Linked DNA regions of Homo sapiens. The protein of the gene in region 7 purifies or fractionates together with the protein of the main gene of each other region. This does not show direct contact. Each region holds a gene or a part of one and is shown on either strand. Other genes may lie near its edges.

What was found.
Region 1: the proteins of TRIM44 (region 7) and FGFRL1 purify together in Homo sapiens (affinity purification with mass spectrometry; 2 studies listed by BioGRID and IntAct, with this or other methods). This does not show direct contact.
Region 2: the proteins of TRIM44 (region 7) and CCDC15 purify together in Homo sapiens (affinity purification with mass spectrometry; 2 studies listed by BioGRID and IntAct, with this or other methods). This does not show direct contact.
Region 3: the proteins of TRIM44 (region 7) and SPATS2L purify together in Homo sapiens (affinity purification with mass spectrometry; 2 studies listed by BioGRID and IntAct, with this or other methods). This does not show direct contact.
Region 4: the proteins of TRIM44 (region 7) and DDX24 purify together in Homo sapiens (affinity purification with mass spectrometry; 2 studies listed by BioGRID and IntAct, with this or other methods). This does not show direct contact.
Region 5: the proteins of TRIM44 (region 7) and KANSL2 purify together in Homo sapiens (affinity purification with mass spectrometry; 2 studies listed by BioGRID and IntAct, with this or other methods). This does not show direct contact.
Region 6: the proteins of TRIM44 (region 7) and DACH1 purify together in Homo sapiens (affinity purification with mass spectrometry; 2 studies listed by BioGRID and IntAct, with this or other methods). This does not show direct contact.

What each region holds. Positions count from the first base shown.
Region 1 is NC_000004.12:1,017,597-1,022,002, reverse strand, and holds part of FGFRL1 (fibroblast growth factor receptor-like 1 precursor), read right to left. Parts: intron 1-4,406. UniProt on the Homo sapiens protein: Has a negative effect on cell proliferation.
Region 2 is NC_000011.10:124,952,409-124,957,465, reverse strand, and holds the start of CCDC15 (coiled-coil domain-containing protein 15), read right to left. Parts: upstream 3,265-5,057; 5' UTR 3,096-3,264; intron 2,743-3,095; 5' UTR 2,734-2,742; coding exon 2,557-2,733; exon of another isoform or gene 995-2,556; coding exon of another isoform or gene 965-994; intron 1-964. UniProt on the Homo sapiens protein: Plays an important role in primary cilium assembly, maintenance, and length regulation. Interacts with centriole inner scaffold proteins to promote proper centriole size and integrity and assembly of functional cilia.
Region 3 is NC_000002.12:200,435,148-200,439,553, forward strand, and holds part of SPATS2L (SPATS2-like protein), read left to right. Parts: intron 1-3,974; coding exon 3,975-4,181; intron 4,182-4,406.
Region 4 is NC_000014.9:94,071,203-94,074,702, forward strand, and holds part of DDX24 (ATP-dependent RNA helicase DDX24), read right to left. Parts: intron 1-3,500. UniProt on the Homo sapiens protein: ATP-dependent RNA helicase that plays a role in various aspects of RNA metabolism including pre-mRNA splicing and is thereby involved in different biological processes such as cell cycle regulation or innate immunity.
Region 5 is NC_000012.12:48,655,143-48,658,812, forward strand, and holds part of KANSL2 (KAT8 regulatory NSL complex subunit 2), read right to left. Parts: intron 1,641-3,670; exon of another isoform or gene 1,506-1,640; intron 1-1,505. UniProt on the Homo sapiens protein: Non-catalytic component of the NSL histone acetyltransferase complex, a multiprotein complex that mediates histone H4 acetylation at 'Lys-5'- and 'Lys-8' (H4K5ac and H4K8ac) at transcription start sites and promotes transcription initiation.
Region 6 is NC_000013.11:71,437,006-71,441,281, forward strand, and holds the end of DACH1 (dachshund homolog 1), read right to left. Parts: intron 3,688-4,276; coding exon 3,650-3,687; 3' UTR 961-3,649; downstream 1-960. UniProt on the Homo sapiens protein: Transcription factor that is involved in regulation of organogenesis. Seems to be a regulator of SIX1, SIX6 and probably SIX5.
Region 7 is NC_000011.10:35,724,662-35,729,067, reverse strand, and holds part of TRIM44 (tripartite motif-containing protein 44), read right to left. Parts: intron 3,145-4,406; coding exon 2,905-3,144; intron 1-2,904. UniProt on the Homo sapiens protein: May play a role in the process of differentiation and maturation of neuronal cells. May regulate the activity of TRIM17. Is a negative regulator of PAX6 expression.

The DNA.
Region 1 (4,406 bases), on a different chromosome or scaffold from region 7:
CACTGGCCCAGCAAACACCACGTCAGCAGCCTCTCATGGCCGGGGCAGCCCCGTGGCCCCAGAGGCTGGCTCTTTGAGACACGAGAAGGGAGCAGGGTCCCCAGAGGATGCAAAACAGCTGCGCTTGGTAACTCTCGAAAACCACCAACCAAAAGGGCAGAGTCTCCTTCTGGTCATACAGGAAGCAGCCGTACACCCGAGGTCAGAGGGGACAGTGGCCCCCCAAGGACAAGGGCAGTAGGGGGATGGGGGGCCTGGTGGGTCCCAAAGAGGCCCCAGGCCCCTCACCTAATTCCCACCCAACCATCAGCCCAGGGCCCAGCCGGGCCTGGGCATGGGCCAGCGACCCCACAGCTATCCACAAGCAACCGAGCACGGCGGGCTGCCTGAGCCTGTGCAATGTGTGGATGAGAGTCTGTGCAGCACCCACGTCTGTGTCAATATCAGACCTGAGTTCAGGGACCACAGATGCCCAGGTCTGTCTGCCCACCCCCAAGGGCCGTACCCTGCCAGGCACCTTAGCCTTGAGGGGGCATGACCCCAAGGCCCTGGGGTCAGAGAGCAAGCCTCTGGAGAGACGTAGCTCGGGCTGACCACGGGCACTGCCGCTCCTGTCTGGGGGGCAGCCAGTATGTCCTCCCACCACCTGTGAAACCCACAGGAGCAGAAAGGCTGCGGCTCCACATGGCCACCTGCACCATCCCACCCTATGTGGAGAAGCCGAGCCCTCCTTTCCTGGCAGAGGCCTCCTTTCCTGGCAGAAAGGAACCCACCCCATCCCCTGCCTGGGTCCCCGCCCCACCCCATCCCCTGCCTGGGTCCCCATCCCACCCCACCCCCTGTCTGGGTCCCCACCTCACCCCTTCCCCTGCCTGGGTCCCCACCCCATTCCCTGCCTGGGTCCCCACCCCACCCCCATTCCCTGCCTGGGTCCCCACCCCGCCCCATCCCCTGCCTGGGTCCCCACCCCGCCCCTTCCCCTGCCTGGGTCCCCACCCCGCCCCATCCCCTGCCTGGGTCCCCACCCCGCCCCTTCCCCTGCCTGGGTCCCCACCCCGCCCCATCCCCTGCCTGGGTCCCCACCCAGCCCTGCCCCTTCCCCTGCCTGGGTCCCCACCCCACCCCATCCCCTGCCTGGGTCCCCACCCCGCCCCTTCCCCTGCCTGGGTCCCCACCCCGCCCCATCCCCTGCCTGGGTCCCCACCCCAGCCCCACCCCTTCCCCTGCCTGGGTCCCCACCCCACCCCATCCCCTGCCTGGGTCCCCACCCCGCCCCTTCCCCTGCCTGGGTCCCCACCCCGCCCCATCGCCCCATTCCCTGCCTGGGTCCCCACCCCATCCCCTGCCTGGGTCCCCACCCCATCCCCTGCCTCAGTCCCCACCCCACCCCATCCCCTGCCTGGGTGCCTCTGGGCTGGAAGGCAGGGCCAGGGTTCTGTGTGTGTGTGACCAGCCCCAGTGGGCAGTGCCAAGCCGGCCAGGAAGATGAACCTAGAACACACAGACCCTGCAGGCCTCAGAAACTCGGGGCACCGCAGGGCCTGTACCTGGATGGAGCTCCTGGGAAAGGAGGGCCCTGCGTGCCCCACTCCCCACGTGCTGCTCCCAAGTCCTGCAGCGGCGACCACAGCCCACTCACTGCTCTCCATGTCGGAGAGGCGGCCGCAGGCACCCCACAGTTCCCAGGGCATCTCTCGCCAGCCCATGGGTGACAGTGTCCATCCCGCACTGCAGCCACTGCTGTCTGGGAGCGTCCAGGCTGCGTGCAGAACACCAAGAGGTAGCAGCTGCTCCAGGCCATCTCGATGGGGCCTGGGGCCGCGTGTTCCTCCAATACACAGTTAACAGTGGCCCTGTGACGTCTCCCACTGGCGTCTTCAGACACTCAGGGAGCAGCTCCCATTCTGACCCCCAAGTCTGGGGACAGGGACCCTCACAGAGAATCCCTATCACCTCTCTGGAGGCCTCCCAATCAGTGCTGATAGCACAGGGGGCGTTGCCCAGGGCCTCTAGGTTCTGAGCCCACAGGCATCATTGGCCGCTGGGGCTGGGAGTGGAGACACGGCGCCTCCCTGCTGTGCCCAGAAACACAAAGGGTGGGCTGAGGCTCTGGAGGGAGGGATTCTTCTCAGCCCTGGCTCACCCGGCCCATCCCAGTCCTTGGCCTCTCTGAGAAAACATGTGGGGGTCTCTTCTCTGACTCACGTCTCTCCCTCAACTCAGGACCCTCCCACCCAGGCCATGGGCCCCAGCCCTGAAGCCCCTCCTTCCCTACCCTCCCTGCAGCTCCCCGGAGAGGAAATGAGATGGCGGCTGTGGGGGGCTGCCAGCCCACCACCCCCTCAGTGTGGTTCTGTGAGCTGCCCAGGGCTGGGGGCAGCTCTGGCAAATTTGTCCCGGGGAGGAAGCGGCTGCAGGGCCCACAGCACTGGGGCCTCCTGACCCCTTCCCAGCCGGCCCAGGTCCCAGACGCACCCCAGGTTGACCCCACCAGCACCTGTCGCTGCCTGAAATCCCACCACCCACAGGGCCTCCCGGGACCAAGGGGGAGTGGCCAAGGCCCCTGGCCAGCCCAGCCCCTGTGGCCCACAGCCTGCAGGGGTGCCTGGGCCTCCTGGCTGGCTACCTGGGCACAGGCCTCACACGTGCATGTTCATGGGTGCACACAAGTGTTCACCCACACAACTGTCCAGAAGAAGCAAGAGAGCGAGTGCCTGGCCCTGTCCTGGGTGGGAGCACACTGACCCAGCCCCCCACATCTGGGGAGGGAGCCCACCTCAGAGGCTGAAAGCCCCAGCTACACTTCGGGAAGGTTTCCCAGCCCCCACCCTGCCCCAGGCAGATACAAGCAAGGCTTGGTGAGGTAAGGGTCCCCAAAGGCATGCGGGAGGTGCAGGATGACAGGCACAGACAGGGAGGCGGGACCCCCGCCTGTGGTCACCACTGAGAAAGGGGGCAGAGACAAATGACCGCTGGATGGCCGGAAGCGTGGCCCCCAGGGCCGGCCTGCAAGCGCTGTAGGCACGGGCAGAGGCAGCTGGGCCAGAGGAGCCAGGCTTATCCTAAAGCAAACAGCCTCCCTCCCCCTCGCCAGGCCTATCCCACCCCCACCTGGGCTCCCCGGACCCCCTGCTGTTGCCGGCCCAAGACCCCCCGCAGGAGGGCCTGCCCAGGAGGAAGCCCATCCCCCCAGATTCCTGGGGAATGATCACACCAGGACAGCGGCCAGGGCACCACGCCACCTGGACGGGCGTCCAACCCACGCAGCCTATGGGGAAACTGAGTCAGGACCTGAGGGCACAGGCACCTGGTGGGAAGACCGGCTGCCTCGCACTGCAGCCAGGAAGAAACACAGGGAACCCCCGCCGGGGCATGACAGCAGCACTGTGCCACCTCCGGGGCCGTGCACCCTGCCAAGACACCCCCCAGCCTCCTCCTCCAGCACAGCCCCTGCCCTGCACACACACTTAGCCACAGCCGAGAGGCCCCCAGCACAGGCAGGACACCAAGGGCCACATGGGAGCGAGACATGAGAGTAAACTGAGTCTGAGACAGGGCCTCACTGCTGTCAGGTATGGAGGACTAGACTCGGAGGCAGTGCGCCAAGAAGGCGGATGCCTCCAAATCCTCCCGCCGCCCCCCCCACCCCTGCCCAGCTGTAAAAAACACAACTAGGGAAGGAGGAGGAGCAGGGGCTTCCCACAGCAGCAAGGCCCAGAGGCCGCTCTGCCTACACGCTTTGTCACACACACACTGTCCCCAGACAGAGGCTCCTCTTTCCCAGGGCCCAGGGAGGGTGGAGGTGGGCAGGCCCTGGGATGGAGGGGAAGAAGCTGCAGTCTGGAGGGACGGAGGCAGGAACCCCCTGCGGCCTGCCCTTCCCCGTCTTCACAGGCCCTCATATCAGCTCCCCGAACACCTGCCCCATCTGAAGTGCCCTCTCCGACACCCCTCACCCCGTAGCTCCTCGGGGGCTCCAATATCTCTTCTGGAAGGGCCCGTCCTGGCCACGTGGTCCAAACCCACACCCAAGCCCCTCTCCCGTGCTCGTGGTGTCCCGAGGCCTGGCATACAGCAGATACTCAGTGGACATTCGTAGGGAGAACGGTGTGGGTGTGGGGGCCGGCCAGGGCAGGTACAGAGGATGCAGGGCTGGGGCTGCCCGGCTTCCCTCCTGTGGCCAGGTGGCTCCTCCCCATGGGGCCTGGCTCCTACAGGGAGCAAGGAGGGGGTGCTTCCCCAGAACACAGCCCTCAGCACAGGGAGAGACACCCAGGCAGGGACACACGTGCAGCGTCATGACCCCTCTGTTGGGAGAAGACACGAGCTAGGACCAGGACACTGGCTGGAAACGGCCTCCTCCAACTTTCCAGTGCACCCTGCACCTCCCAGGACGCCTCTACAGC
Region 2 (5,057 bases), about 89 Mb from region 7:
ACTACCCTGAGATTACCATGCTGTGAGGAAGCCCAAGTTAGTCAAACAGAGAAGCCATGTGAAAAGAGAAACATATCTAACCAGCACCCAGACATTCTAGTCATCCTAGGCCAAGCGTCAGATATGTGAATAAGAAAGCCATCTTGGACATTACAGCCCAGCAGGTGCCACATTACTGGGAGAACTTGACTATTGTCTAGCTCCAGCCAATAGCCGGAAAATAGTCAAGGTGTCTCAGACATGTCCAGTTATTTGAGCCCCAGCTGAGGTCCCAGACACTATGGGGCAGAAACAAGCCATTACCACTGTACCCTGCTCAAATTCCTGTTACATAGTATTATTTGCTTTATACCACTAAGTTCTGGGGTGGTTGGTTACACAGCAAAAGGTAACCAGAACAAATTATAAAATAATGCAATCCCATATATGATGATAGAACAGCAGTGTCTTTTGATGCTAATTTATTAATAATTATTGGGGGGAGGTAGTCTAAAGCTATGACATTTTTAGGAATCCTGATGGCCCCCTGAAATTTTGGGGAGAAAAATGAGTAGAAGTTCCCCTTTAGAACAGACATGATCTAAGGGCCAAGCTTTAGAAGTAACTATTCAGCATTTATTTTGAGCTGACAGAGCTATATCCGTTAATAAGGGTGGATACCCAGACTAGATATGCTAAAGCTATAAGGAGTTCTATTAGATGCTTGATCAAACTCCCTTTGGCTGGAACTGATCAGAAATTTTTAAATCAGGAAAAGGAGATATGTTTATCCATGTTCCAAGACTTTAATATTTTGAGTTAATGTGTGTGAATACGATAGTCAATACTTCTTAACATAGAAAAAGTTTGATGGTGTCAAATTTTAGGCATGTTGACACTACTGATATTATACAGATGTAATTTGAGCAATTACAAAGAGGTGTCAACAACTTAAATACCAAAATATCTTTATACCAAATCTTACCAAGTCTTGTGGGGTGTTTCCTGCATTCATCCCTTCTCATTCCACTCCTTTTTTTTTTCCAGAGATGGGGTCTCACTCTATTGCCCAGGCTAGAGTGCAGTAGTATGATCATAGTTCACTGCAGCCTACAATTCGTGGGCTCAAGCACTTCAATCATCCTTTTTCAAGGCTGTTCTTCTCTATTTCTTACCACTAACAAAGTTTCGATGCTATACTCCATGCTTAAATTATTATAATTATATTCTAATTTATCCCCAGGATCCAATCACTCCCTATCCTTCAAAACCTTTGAAGCAATTCATCTAAAGAAAACACTGGTTGATCATGACATTCACCTGTAAATATTAAACAAAGTCAATCCCTTCTCCAAAATTTCCTAAGGTACTCTACCATCCCTATTTTCCATAATCCTGTCAGCAACCATTCTCCTACTAAGCTTTCCACTCCAATCGATCTAATCTACCCTTAGAATCCTGAACCTTGCTTACTTCTTACTCTCCTCATTCTCCTTAATAGGAGAATCATTCCCTTCCCTTCTCCGATCAAATTCTTCATTACACTTTCCTGGGTCACATCAACCCAACGTCATAGCTTCTTGATTGAGCATTATATTCTTAGAACTTAGATAGAGATACCACCTAGACTCTTAAAATCCTTTTTGGAAATAGGCAGGGTAGGAATAAATCAATGAATATACATACATATGTGCAAACATAAATAAAATGAATATAGTATATTGCATTACTTTAACATTTAAACACATCTCATTTCTCTTCTGAGATCAAGTACACTGAGGGAACATATCTCATCCTTTTTTCATCCATGTTCAGCACCTTGTCTACACATACAGAAGACATTTTGTGCCTTTCATAAATACTTCATGAGTGTCTATATTGATTAGGCAGTATTTAAGATAAAAGTGGGAATGTGATGATAAATGACATTTGTTCTCTACGCTCAAGGAGCTCACACTGCATCAGGAAAAGATATATAAACAATCTACTATAACACAATGTGGTAAGTGCCAAGTTAAATTTGAACAAATAGCTAAGGGGCACAGTTTGGTGAAAGACTATCAGAAACCATGGAATTTCTAGTTAGACTTTCTCAGATTATCAGAGTTCATCTCTTTCTCCTTTATTCTATTACTCCATTTTGCCTGAATCCTCATTACAAAATTTATCATAAACCTTAAGCAACCAATTAATGTTACTTGAAGTATGCCAACTATCATCCATACTAAGTTGCAGTGTCTGGAAGATGTAGATAGTGCTTATGTCTTGGGCATAACAAGCAATCAAGAGTCTGAAGTAAACTGATATACAGATATATATCTATATAACCTGTTCCATGTAGATTATGCTCTATATATTATAGTAGGTGAGTAATAAATATTTGATTATGCCAACTAAAGCTGCAGTCAAGTTTTGGCAAATACTTGTTCTATAATCCTAATGCAAGAGCATAAACTATTTATGGCAGAATAGAAACAGCATCCTCGGACTGTTCATCTTTAAGCACCCAGGATTAGAGAAGGCTAATAAAAAGGGTGGTGGGGAACCCCACCATATTTGGATCAAACTGACACTCACATATGCTGGGATTTCCGAACTACCTGGTGAGGCAGGTTCCACCCATGCCCCAACTGGTACTATAGCCTCGTTCCTCTCAGCCAGCACTGCCAACACGTCCTTGCTCTTCAGGGGGTTTAAAGCCAGGGGCAACCTTGAGGTATTTCGAGGTTTCTTTCGGGCCATACTTCCCAGCATCTGTGACTCCTGATTAGGAGAAAGAAAAAGCTTAAAATCTTCAAATGACTGCATTAAAAGTTCAACCTCCTAACACATGAGCCACAGGCCCGTGAAAAGGAGAGAAGCCCTGGAGGCAGAAGCCTGGCATGAAGTGGAAACACACGGATTCTAGAGAAAAAGGAAGAAAAGAAGGGAAGAGAAATGGGAAGAAATAAAGAGGCAAAGAAAGGTTTTTAAGTTGCCTTCTAGAAGAAATGGCGATGAGAGGGAAGAGAAAGGATGGGAATGAGAGAACGAAGACTGTCCTCAGCTGTGGGCGCAGCGAGGCGGGAAGGGAGGAATGACAGCTGCAACCCGGAGAAAGAGGGAGGGGCGGGGACCTGTGTCTGCAGCCGAGAGTCCCAATAATCGGTATAGGTTATGGGAAGACGCGCTGAACGGCTGGGAGCCTCGGGCCAGATAAAAGCCTGCTTCTGAGGCCCCGAGGCCTGCTCCGGCTGAGATGGCACTGGCCAGGAATCGGCCCGCAGCTCGCCACAGACTCAGTCTACTCGGAGTACTAAGGTAACCGCCTCAAGTAGACCGCCACTTTGCGGTGGGCTGCTCCGTCCCGCCCATCCGTAGCCTTATGCCCGCCCTTTCCGGAGCCCGCGTCCCCTCCCGGAGCTGGGAAGGCGTGAGAGGTGGAGTTTCGAGCGCCCGAGGTATCGTCATTTCCTCTTCCTGTCCGGCTGAGGGGGCGGGGACGTGTGGGTAAGCGGAGTCGCTGGGTAATGCGCCATGTGAGGCGCGGTGGGACTGTCGTTCCTGGACCAACGCCGAGACTTCCTAAATCCCTCCGGAAAGGGATGCGTTGGGCCTGTGATCTGGCGACTAGGAGGGTCAGGAGTCCCAGTAGAGGGAATCACGGGAAAAGAATGAAAGAGGGAGGCGAGCCTGGCACGGCTTCCTGGAGAAACAAACTAAGCTAACAAATTTTTCGGATCCTTTGTGCAGCTAATTTTACAGTACTGTTTCATACATCTTATTATATTTGGACATCACGGCCTGTTGAGTGGTCTCCCTCTCTGCTGCAAGCTCTGCTGTAATCCAGAGACACTCAATTATCTCTGTAGGATAATTTATTCATTCGATTAACATACATTACTACTAACTTTTTATAAACCAGTACTGTTCCAAGCACCGGAGATACATAGCTATGAACGAAACAAATATCCCTGCTCAGGGAATTCACAATAGAGTGAGGGGAAATAAGCGAATAAACAATGAGTAAGTAAATGTGTGTGATGTGGAGTAAAAGCAAAGAAAGCGGATAGGGAGTGTGGTGGGCAGGGTGGGGATTGGAGGGATGAAATATTAGAACGTCCAGAGAAGCTGCACTGAGATACTTTTCAGCAAAGACTTAAATGAGTTAATGGAAGAAGCCACTGTGCTCTTCAACGGAGGCTTTATAAACATGTTCCAGATATAACAGCAAGTATAAACGCCCCAAGGTGGAAGCATTGCCTGGTTGAGAAAAAGTCAGGAGGATAGTGTGACTGGAGCAGAGGGAGAGTGGAAGAATGCTGAGACAGTAGGTCAAGCAGGCAATCCGATCAAACATCGTAAGCCACCATAGGTGTTGAGATGGGGAGCCACTGGAGCAAGGTTTGGAGCAAAGGAACACCATAATGTGACAAAATTAAAAAAATAATAATTCCGAATGCTGTAGTGAGAATAGACTGTAAAGAAGACCAATTAGGTGGCTATTGCAATAATTCAGTTAAGGGATTGTGATGTCTTGGATCAAGGAGGTAGTGGTGGAGATGATGATAAGTGGTTGGATTCTGTATCTATTTGGGAGGCAAAACTTTCAGGATCTGTTGAAGGTTTGGATATGGATTGTGTGAGGGAGAGATGTCAAGGAAAACTAGGGGTTTCATCCTGAGCAGCTGTCAGGATGAAATTACTATTTACTGAGATAGTGAAGATGGTGGAAGGAGTAGATTTGGAAAGGGGAAGATCAGGAGTTCAGTTTGGGGCAGATAAAGTTTTATCTAATCAACATCCGAGAAGATAGTATGAGAAAAAGTGTCTGGAGCTCAGAGAAGGGTTCTGGGCTACAAATATAAATCTAAGAGTCGTTAGCCTGTAGATTTAAAGCCATGAGACTGGATGGAGTCATCAAGGGGTTGAATATAGACAGATAAAAGAATAAATCCTAAAACAGCCCCAGGGTATGTCAGTATTACAGAGGCTGAGAAAAAGAGGAGGAGAATGCTAAGAGATTGAGAAGGATTAATCAGTAAACCAAGGAAGAAAACTATGAGGGTGTGATACCTTGAAAGCCAGGTGAAAAAGAA
Region 3 (4,406 bases), on a different chromosome or scaffold from region 7:
TTAATAAACCAGAGCTGATACACTGTGCACTCTCCATATGTGTCTGTTGAATCCTTGAATCAGAAACCAACGTGATACTCAGGACATTATATACCATTTGTGTGTATATACAAAATTGGGATTTGGTAAGTGTTTTCAATAAAAGGAATGCTCACGTAATAGTTAAATTCAAAGACACAAACTTCTAGGAGCCATTTTTAGATACATGGACAAGGATTAAATTAAAATGTATACAATTTTTATTGAAATCTAGGCAGATGGTGTGTTTCCAGAGATAACTTTTCTTTCCAAGATACGGCTACTGTGGAATCTAATATTTGATGAATATTAGATAAAGACACAGCCAGAGACTCATATCAAACGAGGCTCCCTACAACTGGAAGGGCCGTAGGCATGCATAGCACTGAAGTAACACTGATTCATTCATTCAGTATTTATTATGTATCTACGAGATACCAAGCACATACAGTAATGATGAACAAGACATACATCACCCTGTCACCACTTTTCTCATGTAGAAATTGCAGAGGATATTTTAAGGCTTCACTAAAACAAATACCCTTTTCTAGAATATAAATTAGTAGTGATTACACACTGAAGATCAAAACTCTCACACTCCTTGTGTATCCTATTAGTGTTATCCAACAGAAATTTAACACATAGTATGTATATAATTTTATATTTTCTGGTAGCCACATTTAAAAAGTGTAAACAGGTGAATTAAATTGGGTAATATATTTTATTTAACTTAATGTATCAAAAATATCATTTCAACATGTAGTCAATCTTTTTTAAATTATTAAAGTAATATTTTAAATTTTTTATTTTGTACTAAACCTTCACATTTCAGCATATACATTACACTTATAGCACATCTCAATTTGGACAAGCCACATTTCCAGTGTTCAACAGCCACATGTGGCCAGTGGCTACCTTACTGGACACTGGAGGCTTATGTGTGAATCAGCCCCCATTGAGCTACAACCTGTTGAAGTTTACAAGTGGACTCCCGATAAATGGAGAGCTGATGGTATTTCTGGACTATAATGTTAGAGGAAAGTCACTGGATACAGTGACTTTCTGTTATAGCTCTATAACGCTCCACCAGTTTTCATCTGCAAGAGTCCCAGAGTTTTACTATATTTGAAGACAGATCTATACTAAAGTAACACTGATACATTCATTATTTATTATGTATCTGCAAGATATCAAACACATGCAGTAATGATGAACAAGACATACATGCATGTCAGACATACATGCATATATGCAAATATGTACAAGTGGTCTTGAAGATTTTAATGTTCAGTGATTTCACTAGTAATGAGACAGCTTTTGAGGACCTAAAAAAAATCTCTACTCACATTTCTCAATTGATATCTGATGGGGAATGTTGAAACGAACCAGTAGACCATATATCAGTTCTCTGATACACAAATAAAATGTTTTCAGCTCTAGGTTAATGAGCCTATGCTCATTTGCATGCTTGGCTTCCATTTAAAATTCTTTTGCATTTCATTACAATAATTTTTTCCCTCTGCTCTAAGGTCATTGTTTCCATTAAGTTATAGTATAAATCCCCTTATTTTCAAGAATATGATCTCTTTACGACACTATACACGAAGATCTGTGTTTTAAATTTGATATGGTTTGAATGTTTGTCCCCTCCAGATCTCATGTTGAAATGTGATTCCCAATGTCAAAGGTAAGGCCCAGTGGGAGGTGATTGGATCATGGGGGCAGATCCCTCATGAATGGTTTAACACCATCCCCTTGGTGATAAGCGAGTTCTTGCTCAGTTACTTCATGTGAGATCTGCTTGTTTAAAAGTATGTGGCACCTCTCCCCTCACTCTCTTGCTCCCATTCTCACCATGTGGTATGCTGGCTCCCAGTCATCTTCTGCCATGATTGTAAGCTTCCTGAGGCCCTCACCAGAAGCTGAGCAGATGTTGGCATCATGCTTCTTGTACAGCGTACAGAACCATGAACCAAATAAACTTCTTTTCTTTAAAAATTACCCAGGCTCAAGTATTCCCTTACAGCAATGCAAAAACAGCCTAACCCAGAATTCTCAATTTATAGTATCTCATCCAGACTGCCTCTCAACTGGAATTTAGAGAGGTAGTGACTTGGAACCAGTTTGGACGTGTCATTGTTTTAACACAAATGTTTATAGACTCAACATAAAATTAGTTTTTTAATCTTTTACAGTAGGGTTTCTCTGGGTGGCTGGTACCACCCATCTCCACTCCAACAGAATCACCTGGGGAGGAGAAGCCTGGGCCCACAGCTGAACTGGAATCTCTAGAAATGGTGTTCGGGAAGTTGCATGTGTAATAAGTACCAAGGGAAACTCATTTCACACTGAAGTTTGACAGCCAGTGCCTTATAGTGAAGTTCTACCTTAATATCACTAAGGATAAAATTGCATACTACCATTTGAATCTGTTTTATTACTGGAGGAAATGCTGTTTTCAGTACTTATGTACTTTGTTTACTACCTTTGCTGAACATTTTGTGTACTGTGAGTAAATTTTTAAGGGTATTCATTCAGCTCATAGAAAGTATGTTGTGCTTTCTTGATATGTAAGTTATGAATGATGGATTCAACTGAAGTCTAATTATATTGATCATGAATGGACTAATGTCTAAAATCAAATTGACTAGGACCTAGATCATATTCCTTTGTATTTTTTCAAGTGTAGTCTCTGACTGTGTCAGGTAAGATATTCATTGTTTTTTATTTTTTTCTATGAAATTGTTTCAAATGTACTTTAATTAGATCATAATTCTACAGAAAGCCATCGAGCCAGACACAAGTACTAGGGCTTCAAAACAGAATTGAACTCAGTGTTTGCCCTTGGGAAGATTGCAGCCTCTGCAAGGCAGGGGTGAGGGGCAGATATGGAAGCCTTGTGTTAAAATATAAAACCGTGGTACCATGGTTTTAAGTAAAGCAAGGTACCATGGGAGTAGAGAGAAGCAGGGCAAGGGTGACTATCTGAAAAGGCTGGGTTTTACAAAGATGACTGTGTTCTGTTTGAGTGCAAGCCAGTCAGCCAGACAAGTGAAGACATTCCCACAAGGTCACCCAGGACATAAGGAATACCAGAACTTGGTTCTCCTAGATCAAAACTGCACTCATCAAGCTTTCTACAAGAACCTGGCCTTCAAGAGCACACTGGCTTCCCTTTTCTCACACCCAAAACTTTCTCTGGTAGTAAGATGTTAAGAGTGATACATTTCCGTTTCAGGCCACTAACATGCTATTTAATTCATTCCAGCAATAACTAAATGGGAACCTACCTTTAAAAGATGCCAAAAGCAACATCCTGCTAATTGATTGCCACATCTATTAAATCTCCAGAGAGAATCTGACTCCCTAGATTTTAAATATAGTTGAGATATTATGATGATGTTTTCTGATTTAAGCCCTCCATAAATTAGATGCAATGATTATAGTATCTGTTGTCACTTCATTTTTGCTCTATCTCCAGTCACGCTTCTGCCTTCATTAATTCGGAATGAAATATCACAAGACATTAATGTAGCACTTGGAGATAGGAGGGCTACATTTTTATAGCCTCAATATGAAATTGTACTTAAAAGACTCATAAGCCTTTACTGGAATAGCAGGGGGGAAAAGGCACTGCTCATCTTCTATAAGCCTCTTAATAACCTTCCTGGATAGTTATGGATGAGGAAACTAGGGCTCAGAGATGCCCAGGGTCACTCTGCAAGTAATTACCAGAGCCAAAACATGCCCAGGTCTTTCTACTCAAAATACAAGGCTCTTCTAGTACACCCTCTAATCTTCTGGGGATTCTTTTAAAACAGTTTCTTGACTGTTTGCAATGAAAGGCATTATTGCCAATATGTAAACAAAAACAAAAATCTTGGCATCCTCCATCACTTTATCGTCAGTGTTTTTAGTTTATCACTTCACAGTCATTATTTGGTGTTTTCTTACAGAAGGCAACAGACTACTGCAACAGAAACTATCCTTAGATGGGAACCCCAAACCTATACATGGAACAACAGAGAGGTCAGATGGCCTACAGTGGTCAGCTGAGCAGCCTTGTAACCCAAGCAAGCCTAAGGCAAAAACATCTCCTGTTAAGTCCAATACCCCTGCAGCTCATCTTGAAATAAAGCCAGATGAGTTGGCAAAGAAAAGAGGTAAAGTGATTTCTTTTGCACAAATGATTCAACATATTTTGCACATACAGAAAAGTGCCAGAGTGACAGAACTTTCCAAAAGATGCTGCTTAGTGAAGAGAGATGCACATGAAATTGCATTTTTTTTTCTGTGACCCACATAGATGGAAAGGCAGAGGTGATTCCTCCCATGTAATCAAAGGTCTTGAATATTTAAATAGAATTACATCTCCTTTCTCTGCCCCT
Region 4 (3,500 bases), on a different chromosome or scaffold from region 7:
AATAGACAATTATCAAAAGAAGATACACAAATGGCCAACAAACATGAAAAAATGCTCAACATCACTAATGATCAGGGAAATGCAAAGCAAAACCACAATGTGATACCACCTTACTCCTGCAAGAATGGCCATAATCAAAAAATCAAAAAACAGTAGATGTTGGCAGCCAGGCACGGTTGCTCATGCCTGTAATCCCAGCACTTCCGGAGGTTGAGGTGGGCAGATCACCTGAGGTCAGGAGTTCAAGACCAGCCTGGCCAACATGGTGAAACCCCATGTCTACTAAAAATACAAAAATTAGTCGGGCATGGTGGCAGGCACCTGTAATCCCAGCTACTTAAGGAGGCTGAAGCAGGAGAATCACTTGAACCTGGGAAGCGGAGGTTGCAGTGAGCCAAGATTGTGCCACTGCACCCCAGCCTGGGCAACAGAGTGAGCCTTTGACTTAAAAAAAGAAAAAAAGCCGGGCACAGTGGCTCACACCTGTAATCCCAGCACTTTGGGAGGCCGAGATGGGCGGATCACCCGAGGTCGGGAGTTTGAGACCAGCCTGACTAACATGGAGAAACCACGTCTCTACTAAAAATACAAAATTAGCTGGGTATGGTGGCGCATGCCTGTAATCCCAGCTACTCGGGAGGCTGAGGCAGGAGAATCACTTGAACCCGGGAGGCAGAGGTTGCAGTGAGCCGAGATTGCGCCATTGCACTCCAGCCTGGGCAACAAGAGCGAAACTCCATCTCAAAAAAAAAACAATGTTGGCATGGATGTGGTGAACAAGGAACACTTCTATGTCCTGGTGGGAAAGCAAACTAGTATAGCCACTATGGAAAACAGCGTGGAGATTCCTTAAAGAACTAAAAGTAGAACTACCATTTGATCAAGCAATCCCACTACTGGGTATCTACCCAGAGGAAAAGAAGTCATTATACAAAAAAGATACTTTCACACATAATTTTATAGCAGCACAATTCACAACTGCAAAATCATGGAACCAACCCAAATGCCCATCAATCAACGAGTAGATAAAGAAACTGTGGTATATACAGGATGGAATACTATGCAGCCATAAAAAGGAATGGATTAACAGCATTTGCAGTGACCTGGATGAGACTGGAGACTATTATTCTAAGTGAGGTAACTCAGGAATGGAAAACCAAACATCGTATGTTATCACTGATATGCAGGACTAAGTTATGAGGATGCAAAAGCATAAGAATGATACAATGGACTCCGGGTACTTGGGGGGAAGAATGAAAGAGGGGCAAGGGATGAAATACTACAAATATGGTGTAGCGTATATTGCTCGGGTGATAGGTGCACCAAAATCTCACAAATCACCACTAAACTGGCACAGTGGCTCACGCCTGTAATCCCAACACTTTGGGAGGCCGAGGTGGGCAGATTACTTGAGTTCAGGAGTTCAAGACCAACCTGGCCAACGTGGTGAAACCCTGTCTCTACTAAAAATGCAAAAAGTAGCCGGGCATGGTGGCACATGCCTGTAGTTCAGCTACTTGGGAGGCTGAGGAAGGAGGATGGCTTGATCCCAGAAGGTGGAGATTGCAGTGAGCTGAGATAGCACTACTGCACTCCAGCCAGGGTGACAAAGCAAGACTCCGTCTCAAAAAACAAACAAACAAAAAAACTTGCTCATGTAACCAAATACCACTTGTACACCAATAACTTATGGAAAAATTTAAAAAAATTAAAAATAAACATCTAAACATAGAAAAGGAAAAAAAAATTTAAAATAAAAAACAGAAATGTGAAAAAAATAAATAAATCAGGTATGCTATCAGTCAAAAAATAAATAAGTAAACCCACCATTATCAATAATCATTAAACGTAAATAATCTCAGTAACTCAATTAATTTTCTTTTCTTTTTTTTTTTTTTTTTGAGATAGAGTCTCACTCTGTCACCCAGGATGGAGTGCAGTGGCACAATCTCAGCTCACTGCAACCTCCGCCCCCTGGGTTCAAGCAATTCTTGTGGCTCAGCCCCCCAAGCAGCTGGGACTACAGGCACATGCCACCACGCCTGGCTATTTTTTTGTATTTTTAGTAGAGACAGTTTCGCCATGTTGGCCAGGCTGGTTTTGAACTCCTGGCCTCAAGTGATCCACATGCCTTGGCCTCCCAAAGTGCTGGGATTACAGATGTGAGCCACCATGCCTGGCTTCAATAATTCAACTCAAAGACACGAACTGTCTGATTAAACAGCAAGACCCATTTATATGCTGCCTATAAGAAATTCACATTAAATATAAATAAGGGAAAGTAATAGTATTGAAAAACACATACCATGCTAACCCCTTAATCAATAAAGCTGGACTGGCTGCATCAATACCAAAGGACATTTTAGAACAAAAAAAAATTACTAAGGATAAAGGGGGCCATTTCATAACGATAACAAGCCAATTCATTTAGAGGATATAATAATAATCTAATATTTTAATCCATAAAACATGTATTCACATAAACTGATTGTCAGAATACATGAAACAAAAACTAATAGAACTGCAAGTAGAAAACAGTCACTCAAGAAAAAAATAAGTGGCCGGGTGTGGCGGCTCATGCTTGTAATCCCAGAACTTTGGGAGGCCGAGGCGAGCAGATCACGAGGTCAGGAAATTGAGACCATCCTGGTTAACACGGTGAAACCCTGTCTCTACTAAAAATACAAAAAATTAGCCGGGCATGGTGGTGGGCACCTGTAGTCCCAGCTACCTGGGACGCTGGGGCAGGAGAATGGTGTGAACCCAGGAGGCAGAGCTTGCAGTGAGCTGAGATCGCACCACTGCACTCCAGCCTGGGCAACAGACCGAGACTCCATCTCAAAAAAAAAAAAAAAGAAAAAAATAAGTAACACAAATATCTCTAATCTATTAAACAAAGTAAATTTGTAGTCAAAAATCTTCCTACAAAGACAAGTGCAGGCTCAGATGAATTCTACCAAAAATTTAAGTTGGGTATAAAATGTCAATCCTGTATAAATTCTTTCAGAAAACTGAACAGAATACTTCAGAAATCATTCTGAAGCTACATTACTGATTCCAACACCAAAACATTACAAGAAAACTACAACTATCCCATGAACATAAGTTCAAAAATTCTCAACAAAATTTTAGCAAATCAAATCCAACAAAATATAATTAGAATAGTATATTGTGACCAAGTTCAGTTTATCCCAGGAATGTAAGTCTAATTTCATAATTGAAAATCAATGTCATTCACCACATTGGCAGACTAAAAATGAAAAACCACCTATTTCAATATATGCAGTAAAAAAGCATTTGAAAAATATCCAACATCCAACCCTGATAAAACCTCTCAGCAAATGAGAAATCAAAGAGAACTTCCACAACGTGATAAAAAGCACCTACAAAAAACCTACAGCTAAGATCAGACTTAATGGTGAAAGACTAAATGTTTTCCCCAGAAGATCAAACACAAAGCAATAATGCCCACTTTACCACTACAATTCAAAATTCTGCTA
Region 5 (3,670 bases), on a different chromosome or scaffold from region 7:
ATACTCTGCTGTCTCCCTCAACCCTAGCCTACCTTTAATAAAAAAAAAATTTTACAAGAGCGTCCAACAAATGAAACAAGATCCAAAAGCACTGAGAGCTTTTGCTGCCAAGTGTAAAACATAGACCAATACAGTAGATTAAAAAACAAAATTCTGGCCACCACACCTCTAATCCCAGCACTTTGGGAGGCCAAGGTAGGCATATCACTTGAGCCCAGGAGTTCAAGACCAGCCTGGGCAACATGGTGAAACCCCGTCTCTACAAAAACTGCAAAAATAAGCCAGGCGCGGTGGCACACACCTGTAGTCCCAGCTACTCTGGAGGTTGAGGTGGGAGGATCCCTCAAGCTTGGGACGCAGAGGCTGCAGTGAGCCGAGACTGCACCTCTGCACTCTAACCTGGGTGGCAGAGCCAGACCCTGTCTCAAAAAAAAAAAAAATTCTAGGAAAATTCACAGAAACACAAAGTAGAAACGGAGAATAGTAGGGAACAGGGGAAAGGGAAAGGAGAGAGTTACTGTTTAAAAAGTACAAAGTTTCTGTTTGGGTTGATGAAAAAGTTCTGGAACAGAAAATGGTGATAGCTGTACAACATGGTAAATGTTCATAACACCACTGACTTGTACACTTAAAAACGGCCAGGTGCAGTGGCTCATGCCTATGATAACAACACCTTGGGAAGCCGAAGTGGGAGGATCACTTGAGGCCAGGAATTCAAGACCAGCCTGGGTGACACAGCAAGACTCCATCTCTACCTACCCACCTACTTACACACATACATACATAGGTTAAAAGAGTAAAATTTTGTTATGTATGTTTTACTACAATTAAAAAAATATTTTTTAAAAAAGCATATTCTCTGAGGCTACCTGTAATGAACATGTAAGTTCACCAGTGATTAATTTAAATATGAACAATGCTACGTTAAAATTAAATATTGCTGGGTAATACAAGATTGCCTGATTAATATCCTAACAGCCACAAAGCAAGCAAACAAGCTCCAACAAGGGAAAGGGAGAAGGTAGGAAGAAAGGAAGGACAACAGAAAACTCACAGTTCCTCTGAATGGCTAGGAAATATTATTTTGGTTAAGTCCCTATCCCGACAGAGCAACAACCTGGTTTTTTTTGTTTTGTTTTTTTTTTTTTTGAGACAGAGTCTCGCTCTGTCGCCCAGGCTGGAGTGCAGTGACGTGATCTCGGCTCACTGCAACCTCCGCCTCCTGGGTTCAAGTGATTCTCCTGCCTCAGCCTCCCCAGTAGCTGGGACTATGGGCGTGTGCCACCACGCCCAGCTAATTTTTTGTATTTTTAGTAGAGACAGGGTTTCACCATGTTAGCCAGGATGGCCTTGATCTCCCGACCAGTGATTGGCCCACCTCAGCCTCCCAAAGTGCTGGGATTACAGGCATGAGCCACCACGCCCGGCCAACTCCCTGGTTCTTAAGCCTAACATAGTTTTGCTCTGTAAAAAAAAAAAAAAAAAAAATGACATTACATTCTAGACTATGTTTCTTCCAACTGAATTGGCAATTCGCACTGGAATACTGAATAGCCAACAGACCACAAGGAAGACATCACTCTTAGCTCCTGTTTGAAACCAACAGCTACAGCAAACCATTGGTCTTGATTCAGGGCCTAAGGCAATACAAACTCAAACAATATATCAAACTAACTTTCATGCCACTGCTTTTCAAGAGTCTGGTGCTAAATTCTCCTTCTTCCTAAGAATTAAAAATATCCAGGAGGTTTGTACCCCCCTATGTTTAATCCAGTTTATAGATGCTCCGTGTTTCTATTCATCTAGCTTCACGAGAAGCTTAGTTCTACGCTTTTAAATAAATCTAAGAATTTGCAATCCTTTCCCATTTGTTGGTGTGCTAATCACCAAAAATGAGAATCACAACATCTTCACATTAAAGAATATATATAATTTTAAAATCTACTTAAAGCTGCTCAGGCCGGGTGCAGTGGCTCACGCCTGCAATCCTAACACTTTGGGAGGCCAAGGTGGGCGGATCATGAGGTCAAGAGATTGAGACCATCCTGGCTAACATGGTGAAACCCAGTCTCCACAAAAAATTACCAGCCTGGCCAACATGGTGAAACCCCATCTCTACTAAAAATACAAAAATTAGCCAGGCGTCTTGGCACATACCTGTAGTCCCAGCTACTCAGGACACTGAGGCAGGAGAATTGCTTGAACCCAGGAGGCAGAGGTTGCAGTGAGCCGAGACTGCACCACTGCACTCCAGTCTGGGCAACAGAGCAAGACTCTGTCTCAAAAAAAAATAATAAAATAAAGCTGCTCAATTTAAGCAGAAACATAGGGCACAGGATACACTCAACCTACCATTCATTTTCAGGTGAGTTGGAAACTTCTGTACTACCCACAGAAACCAGTGTTCTCACACCATTAAGACTATAAATCTGTTTTCTCCCATTCTTTTACTATGTGCAATTTGTGTGTGTGTGTGTGCGTGCGTGTGTGTGAGACAGAGTTTCACTCTTGTTACCCAGGCTGGAGTGCAATGGCAAGATCTTGGCTCACTGCAACCTCCACCTCCTGGGTTCAAGCGATTCTCCTGCCTCAGCCTCCCCAGTAGCTGGGATTACAGGCGCGTGCCACCACATCCAGCTAATTGTTGTATTTTTGGTAGAGACGGAGTTTCACCATGTTGGCCAGGCTAGTCTAGAACTCCTGACCTCAGGTGATCTACCCGTCTCGGACTCCCAAAGTGCTGGGATTACAAGCGTCAGCCACCGCACCCGGCCCATGTGCAATTCTTACATAAACAATTAGCTTGGAATGGGCACGGTGGCTCACGCCTGTAATCCTAGCACTTTGGGAGGCCAAGGTGGGCGAAACACTTGAGGCCAGGAGCTTGAGACCAGCCTGGCCAACATGGTGAAACCCTGTCTCTACTAAAAATACAAAAATTAGCCAAGCACAGTGGGGCGCACCTGTAATCCCAACTACTCGGAAGGCTTAGACCGGAGAATCGCTTGAACCCAGGAGGCAGACAGTGCAGTGAGCCGAGATCACGCCAATGCACTCCAGCCTAGGTGACAGAGCGAGACTCTGTCAAAAATAATAATGACTAGCTTGGAATTATTTAAACACTGAATCAAAAGGCATCTAAATCTCAAGATAATAATGGAATGTGTATGTTTTCAGAAAAGGCTTTTCTCATATATACAAAGGGTTGTCTTTTATAAGATTTTAAACTGGGAAAAGGATCCTAAAATAAGAAAATCAGCAAAAATGCCTATTAAAACAGGAGTGTTTTAAAAATTGAAGTATCAGGATATAAAGAGAATCCATGTTTTCAGCTGGGCGCGATGTCTCATGTCTATAATCTCAGCACTTTGGGGAAGCTGAGGGGAGTGGATCACCTGAGGTTAGGAGATCGAGACCAGCCTGGCCAACATGGCGAAACCCCATCTCTACTAAAAAATACAAAAATTAGCCAGACATGGTGGCACACACCTGTAATCCCAGCTACTCGGGAGGCAGGAACAGGAGAATTGCTTGAACCCAGATGGTGAAGGTTGCAGTGAGCCGAGATCGTGCCACTGCACTCCAGTCTGGGCGACAGACCAAGACTCCGTCTCAAAAAATAAATAAAGATAAAATAAGAGAATCCACGTTTTGTTACTATCTCCAAAAC
Region 6 (4,276 bases), on a different chromosome or scaffold from region 7:
AAAATGCAATCCATATAACATATTTATAAGATACTCTCCTCTAGTAATAAATAGCTTTTGTGAACATTATAAATTTGCTAGTCTCAATGAAAACACATGGGGGCAAACCTAAATTATCACTGAGTTTCACTAACATCCAGAGACTGCATGATGTTCTAGTGCTAGTCTTACTGACATAAACATATGATGACAGAAGACAAAAATGTGCTTGTAATGGTCACATCATAAACGTTTTAGGTTTTATTAAGGAAAAAAATCATAATTTAATATACTGTTTCAAGAATTCATTAAAATCATACCTTTAGACAGAAAAATTCATTTTCCTTTCTCTTGGGAATGTTTAGAATATTCACAGAGATAGCAACCCGATAGTTCTTCAAATGCTGCACTTTTGATTGATTAAAGTGTTTATGTATTATTAAAGGATATTGTAATTTCAAAGTTTCTAAAGGCATTTTTTTTCCAAAGATAGAGATCAAAAGCAAAACACTGAGTTAGAGTTACAAATCTCCACTCATAGATATGGGAATAATATATTTTGTTCCATCAACATGTCTACTTTGCATTATTCAGCACAAAGCTTTGTGAAATAAGAATCATGGGAATATAAGAATATAAAGAAAAAAGGTACAAATAACAGCTTCATAAACTGAGAAATGTACATAAATAAATCATGTATATGTGGGCAGTTTGCTTAGCTGGCAAGAAACAAAATATGGAAAATCTGCTTGTTAAACAATAACTACAGAGTGTGCTTTTATGATGTTTTTCACCACAGTAATTCATATTAGAGATAGAAGCAGTTGCATGTTAAATAAAATCATTGAGCATTGTTCCCCTTGCATTGCAAAGAGCTGACTTGTGTTGTTTTTAGATGCCTCCCATTAGAAAGTAAATATTCCTTCAATGCTATGCATTTCACAAAATTTAATAAAGATGAACTGTAAATAAAGTCACAGGGAGATTTCAGACAGTTTTATTAGGAGATTGTTGAAAAGGAAAAGAAAATTAAATACAATAACAGTAAACGTGGTTCTCACATTGAAACCAGGCTCAAATAACTAGGCTACCATAGAAAAATTTCCAATTCTTGCATTATGATGTAAAAACAGATTTTTGTACAGATTTTGTACAACAAAATTCGTAATAACCTTTTATCATTTTTAGAAAACTTTAAATATATAGATAAAAATAGACAATTTTCATAGGTCCTACATGAAGATGAGTATGTTCTGTTCCAAGGGCTTGCATAGAGCGCAAATGTGGTTATAATATAGAACAACTAGACATTAATATTTTTAGGATTACAAAAGCATGGAAACCATAAAATGGGCACATTTTACTTGTTTATGCCAAAACACAAATTTCCAAACCAACCTGTATAACTAAAACAGGGAAAAAATTAAGTTACAGACTTACAATAACATTTCATGAATTGTAATATTTACAACATGTTAGTAAGAGTCTCTCTTAACATACAGCTGATAGCTTTTTTCTTTAATCCTTGCTAAAATTTCCTTTTATTTCAAATCAAACACTAAAGCATTCTCAAAGGTCTTCAAATATGTATTTTAAAACTATTTAATCCACATAACAAACAGGTGACTCTATGCCAGGAGCAGAGCAATGGCTGATTCTACTACATATGTAAGTTGTAGGCTTTTTTAAAAATCTTTCAAAAAATGTATGATGCAAAAAGCTTGACACAAGTCCATTCAATTTTAAGTGTTGTAATCCTTTAAAGACTGCATATAGGGAAACAAACACATAGAACTAGGAAAAGAATCCCTTGTGCTCAAACAACAAAAGGTGGTTATGGAAGAACTATGCTTAGAAAACCAAGTTTCTACAAATCATTTACTAGCAATACTTTAAATAAAAATAATGCTCCCTTTGTAAGCAAGCTAAAATAGGAACTGTACATATAACCTTTTTATGGTATTAAAAAGATGAACTTAGCTGGCTAATAGTGAGCTACACAAAAGAATTATGTTCCAGTATTGCAAGGAAGACCTAAAAGGTATAGAAGCGTAATGCCAGAGTATCTATAATGTTAATTTTTTCTTAATCAAGTAATTAATACCCAATCAGAACTATATTTAAACATTTTAAGCTAGTTTTCTTAGACATTGAAGATTTTGCTGTTTTGTGGTAATAAATAATGTTACGATCATACAATTTTAAGATGACAGAAAAATCATAAAATGTATAGTGACCGTACTGATTCATATCAGTCTTTAAAGGTGTAATTCCAGATATGCAAAAAACAAAGAGAAGGTAACTTTAGCATGTAATAAGCACTGTTTGCCGCTTTACTTCCAGTTATCTGCACGAAAGTGAAAACACATACTGTAACTTTCAAAAAGACAGTGAAAATAACACATAGCCACCCTTCCCTCTGACAAGGGTGGGAAGCACAGCACATTTTAACTTTATCACTCAGCGCTACATGGTATTGGACTGGTACATCAAGGTTTGTTAGGTTTTGTTTTCAGCAACATTAACATAATATGACGTTAACATATAAAAATATTTCTGGTGTTTTGATTTGCTGTTCAGCCACAATCCATTCCCAATAGTGCAGCTTGGGGCACTAGCTAGGGTTCAATATACAAATAAAAGTGGCTGACACAGAGTTCTGATGTCACCAGATGCTTAAGATCTCATTCATTAATACTGTGACTCCAGACAAATATTTACATGCCTGCATGCGTTAAAACCAGAAAGACATCTTTCTGACCAACAGGGTGACAAAACATATTTTCTAAAATTTTCATTTTCCTAAACTCTAGTATACTACTGCATACATAATACCTTCCTTGTGTGTTTTATGTTTATATACTGTACATATGACCAACAGTTTGAATAAGAAGCAACATTATTATCTTTAATTCTACATACCACTACCAGTTTGGAATGAAAACATGTTACACTTATATATTTTTTTTTATTTTTAAGAAAAAAAAACCTTCAGTGAAAGCTTTTGGCTTATATTCAATGCTTCTTTTCAGATATGCAAAATGTTATTTCATTGGGTTGTTGTCAACATCCATTTGTTGGTCTTTTGGAAAGTATGTGAAAAAAAATTCTTCAGGAGAAAACCCACAATTAGAGAGTTTGAAATTGAATGTAACAGAAAATCACTCTTGCATTTTTTTTTTTCAAGAATCCTCTATGCCCCCTACAAGTTCATTCGTTCATTCCAAGTGTTCTTGCTGGTTTCTGGAGGACATAATTCTGTAAGTCTGGGTAACCACTGCTACAAGAGTCTCTTGATGTGCTCAGATACAGAATTTTCAGAAGAGGAAAATGGTTCATTCCATTAGAAAAAAACAAAGCTAGGTCTTATTCAGACCTGCCTTTAACTCTGTATACAATTGTCCAGCAGCAAGTTGCAGTAATTAACTGTAAGAACTTTGATACTTGTACATTTACAAACATTCTCAGGTCTCTGGTATGAACCACAGGTGAAAATCAATGGAGAAAACTTTTTTTTTTTTTGTAGAATACTTAAACTTTTAAAGAACATTAATACACAAAATTCAGGAAGTTCCCTTAAAAGGACTTTATTTTTTTCTGAACTTTCCCATGACGAATGTCTGACTGCAAAGTTCTTTTCTATAACATGGATTTCTTCAACAGGAAAGATTCAGTACATGACAGTAGTTTTCAAATACAGTCTTCCATCTAGAAATGAACAGTGAAAAATTAATTAATGGCATGGTATTTGGGGTACAAATGTGCATGTAAAAATGATGTAACTTGATATAAAATTTGTAGTTTTTATTAGATCTTTACTTGGTTAAGAAGTAACATTTTTCATATCTTCTCAAAGTTAAGTTAATTTCATAATTACACTGAGTTTATGTGACTGAAAAGAATACAGCATTTCTACTTCTCATAAATATATATTTGCTATTTTGATATCAGTTCCAGAGCACTCAGAAAATAGCTAAGAGTATGTGTGTGTATTTTACTGATATGCAAAGTTAGTTGATTTCTGTTGAATAACAATTACTTCCTTCAAGCTTGCAGAACCAAATTTTCTCTGAATGCACTCAGGTGTATCTCCATCAGGAAAGACTGAACTCCCATCTTACTCTTTAGCAGTGTTGTTAAATATACCATGTAATGTAACTATTGTGCACATTCGTTGCTATTTATATGAAAGCCAGCTAGGTTATTTCATCACTGTCAATGAACTATAGCCTTTACCCCTTGAAGTGAGATTCATCCAACAATTAAATATTAAAATGTAAACACTGTATATTATTCA
Region 7 (4,406 bases):
CAAGGTCCCTGATCAGTATGCCATCTTTTTTCCACCTGCAAGAGTCTTTTGGTAGATGATTTCAGCATTTTTGCCCAGAGATTTCTACTGTAATAAGTGAAAGGAGTAAAATAGAATGTGTTTACTCCATCTTGCTCAGAACCAGAAGCTGCAATTTGCTTTAAATATGCCAAAAATAAAATAGATCAGTGAGTGGAAGGTTGAAAAGATGGCTAGATATGTAATGAAGCAAGTACGGCAAAATGTTAATAGGAGAATCTAGGTGGTAGGTACATAGGCATAATCTGTAAAATCCTTTCAACTGTGGTGTATGTTTAAAAAATTTTATAATAAAATGTTGGAGGGAAGGTCTTATGGCTGAATTCAAAATGCAGGTGATTTTTGATAAATTCTATACCACAAAAAGAACATAATTCCTCTGATGACTGAAAGACAGGTACTAGATATTTGCTCTCACCAATAAGTTACCAGATTAACTGGAACAAGAGGCTATTAAATAATAACAGCTCTTTGTAAACACTCTAGTGGCTGAACGCTATCTCTGTTTTTAATAGCTCATTTTGTCTGTAGCCTGGTCCTTAAGCCTTGTCAGCTCTTGCATCCCTTTAAGAGTAATTCCATCAGAGTTAACAAGCATAGTACAGCTGAGGTGCTTAAAGGACAGCTAATGTCAGAGAAGGACTAAATTCATAGATTAAAATAAAAGAGAAGAATAAACCCCAAAATTAAACTTTTTTTTTTGAGATGGAGTTTCACTCTGTCTCCCAGGCTGGGGTGCAGTGGCTGCAATCTTGGCTCACTGCAACCTCCACCTCCTGGGTTCAAGCGATTCTTCTGCCTCAGCCTCCCAAGTAGCTGGGACTGCAGGTGCTCGCCACCATACCCAGCTAATTTTTCTATTTTTAGTACAGACAGGGTTTTGCCATGTTGGCCAGGGCAGGCTTAAACTCCTGACCTCAGGTGATCCTCCCACCTCGGCCTGCCAAAGTGCTGGGATTACAGGCGTGAGCCACCACGCCTAGCCAAAATTAAATTTTTATTTTTCAAAGAACAACCTAATCAACATAGGGAATAAATGAAGGGGTCGAACTTGATAGGAACTGTGGACAGAATTATGCTGTCGATCCCTTGAATTAACTCTGGTTGAACCTTTTGTTTATTAAGACACAAACTGACCATCTTGACATTGTAAAGGTATGCAAAGCTGTCTAGAACATGGATTCTTCTCATTTTCCCACAGATACAGATGGGATGCTTAGCATATGTCTTATAGTAGGGGGAAAGCACAGGCACTGAAATAGCACAGACTTAAATCTAAACCCTGGCTCTATTTTCTACTGACTAAATGATATTGGGTCAGTATCTCTGCAGTTCTCTGTATCTCAAATATCCCATTTGTAAAATGGAGTTAATGCTGACGTAAGGATTAAATGAAATGATGAATATAAAGTGCTCTCTTGCCTATCTAGAAACTTATGTAGGCACATAATTTCTCAATTATGGGGAGAATAAAATGAAAAGAAGAAGAGTTATTCTTTTCACACATTGATGAAAATTAATCAAAAGCCCTGGATGGGTATAGCAGATACCTTTCAATGGTTTCTTACATTTCCTGTCAGGATAGCTTGGAAATACCTGCCTCCTGGATTACTTTGGCTCTTCTACTGGCCAGTTTATTCTGTGGCCAGGCTCTCTCAAGCCAAGGCAGGACGTCCAGTTAAGGATGGACTTGCTGAGTCAGCAACAGTCCTAGAAAGTCCACAGGACTCTCCTATGTTTTTTTTCTAGAAGGACCTACCCTAAACCTATCTGGCATTACCTTCACTAGAATTGTCAAATTATGAAATCTGATTAATAGTAGCCTCTCTCTAGTGGCTGAAATATAAGTTTTTTGGTTTTTTTTTTTTTTTGAGACAGGATCTCACTCTGTCACACAGGGTGGAGTGCAATGGCACAATCACAGCTCACTGCAGCCTCAACCTCCGGGGCTCAAGTAATCTTCCTACCTCTCCTGAATAGCTGGGACTACAGGCAGGTGAGACCATGTCTGCTACTTTTTTATTTTTTTTTTGTAGACACAGGGTCTCACTATGTTGCCCAGGCTGGTCTCAAACTCCTGGACTCAAGCAATCCTTCCACCCTAGCCTCCCAAAGTGCTGGGATTACAGGCGTGAGCCACTGAGCCCAGCTTGTACTTTTTTTTTTTAATGGCTACCTTAAATAATTTTTTCAAAGTAGATTCAAAATGCCTAAATATGTTGTTTGGTAAAATGCCTAAGACCCTTTTATTCCCGTTAAAAATAACAATGAATATGACAACTAACATTTGTATAGTGATTCAACATTTACCTTGTGTCTTTCATTCATAGTTTTTTTTTTTTTTTAATCTTACAATGCCCTAGTGCACATGCCATTCTTAATCCAGCAGTTATGCCTCCAATTTATGCAGCTGGCTCCATATAACAACCAGCTTGAGACACCTTTTCACTATGTACAAAGTAAGTCCAAAATCTTTCATTCTGGCCTGCTTTATGCTCTACTTCATGATTTGTTCTCATTCAGCCCAGGTCTATGATGACTTTAAAGGCTCATTTCACAACTTGGGGTCTGTCGCTTGCCCTCTTCTCTGGCTGTAATTTTTGGCTTCCTTTCTTAATTGTGATTAGTATCTGCCCCCACTGACTATACTCCTTAAAGTAATGATGGATAAATAATTTGGTAGGCCCAGCCACTGAGTAAACTAGTGGCCAATACTTCCATACTGGTTTATACACCATGTGAAACACTTATACTCTACCTAGACTTCAATTCATTCACGTTCAGGGACCACATGGGGTCTAACAAATATGGCATCAGTTTCCTCCTATTTCTCTTGCTACTAATAATTATGGGCTTTTCCTTTACCTCTGCCTTTGGCTCAGCTGATTCATTAGAGGTATCAAGTTGTTCCTTGGCTTGGGCCATCTGAGTCATCAACCTATCCATGTGGGATTGGATGTCTGCCAGTATCTCAGTCACATGAGCTGTGGCCATTGCCTCTTGGATGTCCACTAGATGAAGGGCCTTCTGCTCCTCATCAGCAATCACTTTCTGAACTTTCTTAAATTCCTGCTGTATAAACATCTTCATTTGGTCCCGAGTTACCTTTAGAACAGAGACAAATAAGAAGAATAAGTTGAACATACAAAGAAACAAAAGGGCAGAGTTATTACTATACAGCCCTGGCCAAAATACACACCATGGATCCTATCCAATCCTAAAGTTTTGGGAATATCCTAAAAACAATGTTCCCCTAATATCATTGATGAATTTCCTGCTAATCTTTTTGCCTTTTTCATTCTTCAGGGAGTAATTTCTTATCCTTTTTTCCTTTCGGTTTTGTTCATTTTTATACCAGTAATATATACGATGAATATATACAGTAAAAAATGAGGCCGGGCGTGGTGGCTCATGAATGTAATCCTAGCACTTTGGGAGGCCAAGGCGGCTGGATCACTTGAGGTCAGGAGTTCGAAACCAGCCTGGCCAACATGAGGAAACCCTGTCTCTACTAAAAATACAAAAAAACTTGCTGGGCATGGTGGTGGGTGCCTGTAATCCCAGCTACTTGGGAGGCTGAGGCAGGAGAATTGCTTGAACCAAGAAGGTGGAGGTTGCAGTGAGCCCAGATCGCACCACTGCACTCCACCCTGGGCAACAGAGCAAGTCTCCATCTCAAAACAAAACAAAAAACGAAATTCTTCCTCTCCGCCCCAATTACTGTTAATAGTTTGGTATGTATCCTCCCAGCCATTTTTCTATATAGTTATGTACATATATGTATATAGATAATTAAGTAGTTTTTATATAAATGAATCATAGGGAAAATATGGTTGTCTTACTTTTCTACTTAAGATATATTTGTGCATACAGATCAACTTCATTCTACTATTTTTACTATCTGTATGATATGGAGATGGAGGGTGTGTGTGTGTGTGTGTGTGTGTGTGTGTGTGTGTGTGAGTGTGTGCATGTCTCCTAGTTAACCATTCCTCTCTTAATGGAAGTACAGGATATTTCCAAATTTTTGCTTTTATAAACAACACAGCAATAAACATCCTTGGCTATATCTCTTAATATACGCATATGAGTTTTTTAAAGATGTTTAGAGCCACTTAGTAAATTGGCATATACTCTAAAAATATTGGTTCATACTGCCAAGGTGCCTTCTGAGAAAGATGTATTGATTACATTCCTACAACAACATATGAAAGTAAGCATTTTCCTACACCCTTGCCAATACTGGATTATATCAAGCTTTTAAACTTTTACTATCATGGGTGCAAATATATTATTGTTTTATTTTATAACAACTGCAAACCAAAGAAAATACAACTGCTAGCTATATTTATGCTTAGGGCATAAGA